Homo sapiens: one gene and its partner. The protein of the gene in region 2 interacts with the protein of the main gene of each other region in a pairwise test. Each region holds a gene or a part of one and is shown on either strand. Other genes may lie near its edges. The genes, in order: DNAJB6 and MLF1.

Region 1 (3,827 bases), on a different chromosome or scaffold from region 2:
CCAAGATGGTAACACTGAGGCCTGTGCCCTCCTCTGTCACTCCCAGCGCACAAATCTAAGGGAACAAGCCTGGCGCAATGGTGCTTGGAACTTGAGGAGAGAGGACGATCACCTCAACCCAGGAGTTCAAGGCCTCCCTAGGAAACATAGCAAGATCCTCTCTCTTTAAAAAAAATAAACTTTCCAATGAATAAGCTCAACAGTTCAAGACCTTAAATGCCACATTTCAAGAAGACTTCAAATATCGGTGTTTTTATGTCTTTTCATATTTTTTGAAGTAAAATGTTTGGAATTTCCTCTAAAACAAAGGGGGTGGGCCACAGTGTCACCAGAGAAAGCAAGGCTGGTGGTGTGCTGGTAGCTGTTGAAGGTGGCAAGCTTACACTGGGTTCCTTCTGATTGGTTTGGTTTTGTTTTGTTTTTTGGAGACAGTCTCGCACTGTCGCCCAGGCTGGAGTGCAGTGGCGCAATCTCGGCTCACTGCAACCTCTGCCTCAAATTGGGTTCTTTAAAAAAAAAAAAAATTTTTTTTGTTGTAAATAAGGGCCAATTACCTGACCACATGCAGATACACTTAACCAAGTGCCCACTTCCAGGGTTCAGTTAGTCCATCCCTAACCTTGGAAAAGCCTCGGCCTTTGCTCACAACAGGCCACCCAGCACTGCAGCAGACAGGGGCACTGTGTGGCTTTCCAGTTCTGTCACTGTTCCCCCACCCCAGGCCCCATGCACAGCCTTTACTTCCCCCATGGAACCCTGACTGCATCTAGGCGACAGCTGACCTCTGACCCCTCACCCATTTGTGAACTAGGCCAATGGATCTGACTTCCAGTAACATAGAACACCTCTGCTCCAGACCTAGGAGGGGAAAACAGGCCTGAAACTGGAAATCTAAATTTTAGCTGTATGTTCCATCCCCTCTTTTTGGGAACTAATGACATCCTCTCAAGCAGTAAAGCTGACTCCACTGGAATGGTATTGTTTAAGCCAGTGGGGGTGAGCAAGGTCAGAATGATCACACACAACGGGGGCAAGCACGCCACATGCACAGTGACCTGAGTCCCGCAACCTCCTCTCTCCCAGGTTCCTCAAACCCAGGATGTCTAGTCCCGCTTTTAAAACAGCCATCCTAGGAGAAACTACTAGAAGCCCTGGAGCTCCCCAGCACTCGTGGTTACCTAAATCAATTCAAATCTTCACGAGAAAAGTAAAAATCTCTTAGAAGGGCCCAAAATCCAGTAGGCATCAAAAACAAGTCACTTGAGTCCATACTGTGCTACCCTGAGGAGGATCCCAACACCCACTCCGCATTCCGGCATGCCCGCTCAGGGTCCTTCAGCAGCTCGCTGTCACTCACCATCCGACAGCACTTCATATGCCTCCGCTACTTGCTTGAATTTTCTCTCTGCTTCTTCTTTATTCTCAGGATTTTTATCTGGATGCCACTTCAGTGCCAGTTTCCGATATCTTGGAAAGAATAAAGGATATAGATCACATTCTAAATCCAGAAATCAACTATGCTTTTGAAACTAACATCATTAACCACGAGAATGGCTTCAGAGCTGCCAACTGGTGAGATGAATACTGGTTTTAACTGTAAAACCTCCCTTTCCTCTACAATGAAATACACAAAGTTCTAAAATCCAGATAGCCAGGCGTAGTGGCGTGCAGCCACAGATAGACCCAGCTACTCCAGAGGCTGAGGCGTGACAACTGCTTGAGGCCAGGAGTTCAAGGCTACAGTGAGCTATGATCACACCACTGCAGTCCAGCCTGGGCGACAGAACAAGACTGTCTCAAAATTAAAATTGTAAAAATACTCATTAAAGTAAGTTTTAGAATAAAAATCCTGATAGCATAATACAAACGAACCTCTAGAGATAGAAAAATAAAGATCACAGTGTCCACAACGTGGACTGACAGTGACAAGACTGAGCAAGTATGTGAAGTAAAGGAGAAAGGCCAGGCGTGGTGGCTCATGCCTGTAATCCCAGCACTTTGGGAGGTGGGCAGATCACCTGAGGTCAGAAGTTCGAGACCAGCCTGGCCAACATGGAGAAACCCCAACGCTACTAAAAATACAAAATTAGCCGGGCATTGTGGTACTTGACTGTAATCCCAGCTACTCAGGAGGCTGCGGCAGGAGAATCACTGGAACCTGGGAGGCAGAGGTTGTGGTGAGCCGAGATCGCACCATTGCACTCCAGCCTGGGCAACAAGAGCGAAACTCCGTCTCAAAAAATTTTTAAAAAGGGAAAAAAAGGCCTGGGTCACTGAGCAGCAAGATCCAACATCACCATTCATATCCTTCCATGTTCTGATTCCCAGGACCCTACTTCCTCAGCCAGCCCCACTACCTAGCTCATCTGTGTGCCAAAGGTGAATCACCTGCCACCCAACAGGCCAGGATCTCAGAATCTTTCAAACACCCTCTGTGCCAGATTCAAGATCTAAACAGAGTTAAAACACTGACTTCTACAAAGATTCTATGACCAAGGTCATATTCTGTTGCAGAGTTCCAACTGACCAAATAATTGCACGCTATTTAAATACAAAAAAAAAGGCCGGGTGCAGCGGCTCACACCTGTAATCCCAGCACTCTGGCAGGCCGAGGTGGGTGGATCACCTGAGGTCAGGAGTTCGAGACCAACCTGGCCAACATGGCAAAACCCCATCTCTACTAAAAATACAAAAAGCCGGACATGAAGGCACGCACCTGTAATCCCAGCTACTCAGGAGGCTGAGACAGAAGAATTGCTTGAACCCAGGAGAAAGAGGTTGCAGTGAGCCAACATCGTGCCACTGAACTCCAGGCTAGGTGACAGAGCGAGCCTCCGGCTCAACATGAATGCATGAATGAATGAATGAATGAATGAATGAATACAAAAAAATCCTCTAGTCTAATTAGCAAAACCTAAGCAGCATATATTCAAAAGGAGGGTAACGTTAAAAAAGAGAAGCAGCATACCCCTCAAAATTTCAGACTAGTATACTAATCTGACAGTGCTTTTAACACTAGGCAAGTTATTACTGTAAAGCTGTTGTGGCTCAATTTAACTTACAACATGTTCAACAAAACCTTGGCTTAACCATACTAAAATCTGATTAAAGCTGGAGTCCAGAATACTTAACAGTAATTTATGTCACTGTGGACCTAAACAAACATGTAGCAGCCGGGCGCAGTGGCTCATGCCTGTAATCTCAGCACTTTGGGAGGCTGAGGCAGGCAGATCACGAGGTCAAGAGATCGAGACCATCCTGGCCAACATGGTGAAACCCCGTCTCTATTAAAAATATAAAAATTAGCTGGGCATCATGGCAGGCGCCTGCAGTTCCACCTACTCGGGAGGCTAAGGCAGGAGAATCGCCTGAACCTGGGAGGCAGAGGTTGCAGTGAGCCGAGATCACGCCATTGAACTCCAGCCTGGGTGACATAGCGAGACACCGTCTCAAAAAAAAAAAAAAACGTGTAGCAGTGGATCAAATAACCCTAAATGTGCCAGAAATCCTCAGTCAAAAATAACAGACCATACAAAAGACAAAAGAGAAAAAATGATTAGTGTGCAGTACTACCTATCATCTAGTGTTCATATGAAAACTTGGCAATGGATGAGAATGCAGGACAAGATTCAACTGTGTATGCCCCAGTCATACACTACTAAAATATTTAAAAATCAAGGTGTAATACAACACGATATGCAAGTGTAAACAGTGCCAAATGACTTTGAATGTTGACCTTCAGATCTGTTGGACCTGCACACCAGTACTTCAGCACCAAGGAAGGAAGGCCCATGGTGTGTGACTCAAACCCAGGAAGAGTCTGGTAT
Region 2 (2,709 bases):
GTAGAGACAGGGTTTTGCCATGTTGGTCAGGCTGGTCTTGAAGTGACCTCAAGCAATCCACTTGCCGCAGCCTCCCAAAGTGCTGGGATTACAGGCATGAGCCACTGCGCCCGGCATGTATATAGTTTTAAATAGTTTCAATTTACAGACTAACAGTATTAAACACCCATCATAAGAAGTTGTTGCAAACAAATATTATTCTGGGGTATAGATATCGATAGTTATGTTTTTATGGTGCAAAGATAGAGTTGACTTTTAAGAAAGAAACAGAACTTTTCTCGGTACTACCATCTCAAATTCTGCCTCACCACAATCTCTAACTGCAATCTGATGTACAGGAATTATACTGTTAAACACAATTATTTATTAAAGGGTGTTTTTAGATTTGACTACAATGATTCAAGTTATCATCAGTGTAATGATTTAGGCAAAAGGAAAATCAAGTATGTACTTTATTAAGACTTTGCTCTATCAGGTTAATTTATATCAAGATGTTATTTAAAATGTGTGCCTTATGACAATTTCCCAATGTGTTATGGTATGTTAGGAGTATACTAAAGTATGCCTAAAAGGAAATTTTTAACTAATACATGCTCAATTTCAACAATGAATTAACACATTTGCATTTTATTTTAATGACTAAAGGCATAAAACACAAACTAGTAAAATTAACAAAAATATTATATAAAAAATTAGAGAAGTATGAACATAGTCATATAATTTTACTTACAAAATTGAAAAGAAAAATACTTAGGATTATAGAGTGATAGCAATTTTTGGGGGCTTTTTTCCTTGACAGAAATATTAAACAACAAATGTGAGTTAAGATTTTATATTCTTATAAACTTCAAACCTAACTTTTATAAGAACAGACTGATGCTTAAATTCTAGAATTAAAAAGCTAAAGCTGATTTTTAATGGTATAATTAAAACAGAAACAACTGAATTATTAAGACGTTGCTCAAAAACACCCATCAGCTGTCTAACAGATTTTGAGACAATGTATCATTCTGGTTTGGAGAATACCAAATGCATTTTTCTAAATGTCACAAAAAAGCTGAGCAGAGTTTCTCCAAGGACTCTCCAGCTTCAGAATGTTAACCTTGGAGACAGATGAAGCTGTTTGTGGGAAAGGAGAGTAGAAATATGCCACATTAAGAAGTTAAAGAGAATGGTCAATATAATATCTGGTGAATATTAAGAATGTAATATAGAAAAGATACATTCTATAAATAAATTATAACCAAAACAATCATGTACATTAGCAATTTAAAATATTTTTCTCTGAAAATGAACTATTTGATTATCCTTGCCCTTTATCAAAATAGTAACTATTTTCTCATAAAAGAGTACTAGTGTAGTTTTGCTTTATTATTTTTAAAGTTTTAAGCTAGTTGGCTTTACAACACATTATAAAATTAGAGATAAATTATTTAAACCTTTATTAATATCACCCTAGTACAGTGTTAGTAAAAACTGAGACTTTTTTAACATTATAATTTCTTATAACTAATTATAAGTGATAGAACTGCTCTGCAATCAATCTTGATAAATATAAAAGAATATTTAGCCAACACAAAAACAACTGGGGAAGCGAAATAAGCATATAAGCTTTAAAAAATTAGTATGTTTTAAAGAGTTTTACATTAAATAGACTCAATTTACTCACATTGTTGAAAATCAAAATTTTATTCCTAAAAGAGGGACAATATAAAGCTAGGACCTTCATGAACATTCAGATATCAGAAGAAAGTTGCCAAGGACAGAACTGATTTAACAGCAAGAGATTGGTCTTATGCTTATTACCCAGCACCATTACTAACTGTTAAAACAATCAAAACTAAACAAATCAAATGCATGGCTATTTATTTTTTGTTGCTTTTCACAGATGAGCCTTTGATGTGGAGTTTGTCCCCCAAAACATTTGATCTCCTTCCATGTTCAATGGCTGGACTTTGTTGAGGTTTCTCCCTGAGAAATATACATGTGAATATTAATATCATTTAAAAAATGGCCAATGGTTTATAAATCAATACAAACATGTTAAAAACCACTGTAATATAAGAAAAGTTTTATCTTAAAAATTCCTTAATGGCTTTGAAAAACAAGGCTGGCCAGGTGCGGTGGCTCATGCCTGTAATCCCGGCACTTTGGGAGGCTGAGGCAGGCAGATCACAAGTTAAGAGATCGAGACCATCCTGGCCAACATGATGAAACCCCATCTCTACTAAAAATACAAAGATTAGCTGGGCGTGGTGATGCGCGCCTGTAGTCCCAGCTACTCAGGAGGCTGAAGCAGGAGGATTGCCTGAACCTGGGAGGTGGAGGTTGCAGTGAGTTGAGATCGCGCCACTGCACTCCAGCCTGGCGACAGAGCCAGACTCTGTACCCCCTGCCCTAAAACAAAAAATAAAAAACAAAAAAAACCAGAAAATAAGGCAGACTATTTCAGTGAATTTAAGACAGCAACAGCTGTTTTCCTGTTAGATTTAACTGTTTATAGTTTAAACACTGTTTAATGTTAACAGTATGGTAGTCACTAACCACATTTATATTTGAATTAAAATAAAATAATTCAGTTCTTCAGTTGTACCAGCAATGCTTCAAATGTGAATCAACAGCCACATGTGGCTAGTGATTACTACACTGGACAGAATAGATATATAGCATTTTTGTCATTACCGAAGTCATTTCAGAAAATGCCATTGG

The links.
Region 1: the proteins of MLF1 (region 2) and DNAJB6 interact in binary tests that used the Homo sapiens proteins (3 or more experiments, as listed by UniProt).

What each region holds. Positions count from the first base shown.
Region 1 is NC_000007.14:157,360,801-157,364,627, reverse strand, and holds part of DNAJB6 (dnaJ homolog subfamily B member 6), read right to left. Parts: intron 1,468-3,827; coding exon 1,358-1,467; intron 1-1,357. UniProt on the Homo sapiens protein: Has a stimulatory effect on the ATPase activity of HSP70 in a dose-dependent and time-dependent manner and hence acts as a co-chaperone of HSP70. Plays an indispensable role in the organization of KRT8/KRT18 filaments.
Region 2 is NC_000003.12:158,604,359-158,607,067, reverse strand, and holds the end of MLF1 (myeloid leukemia factor 1), read right to left. Parts: intron 1,972-2,709; coding exon 1,866-1,971; 3' UTR 1,120-1,865; coding exon of another isoform or gene 1,098-1,119; 3' UTR 612-1,097; downstream 1-611. UniProt on the Homo sapiens protein: Involved in lineage commitment of primary hemopoietic progenitors by restricting erythroid formation and enhancing myeloid formation.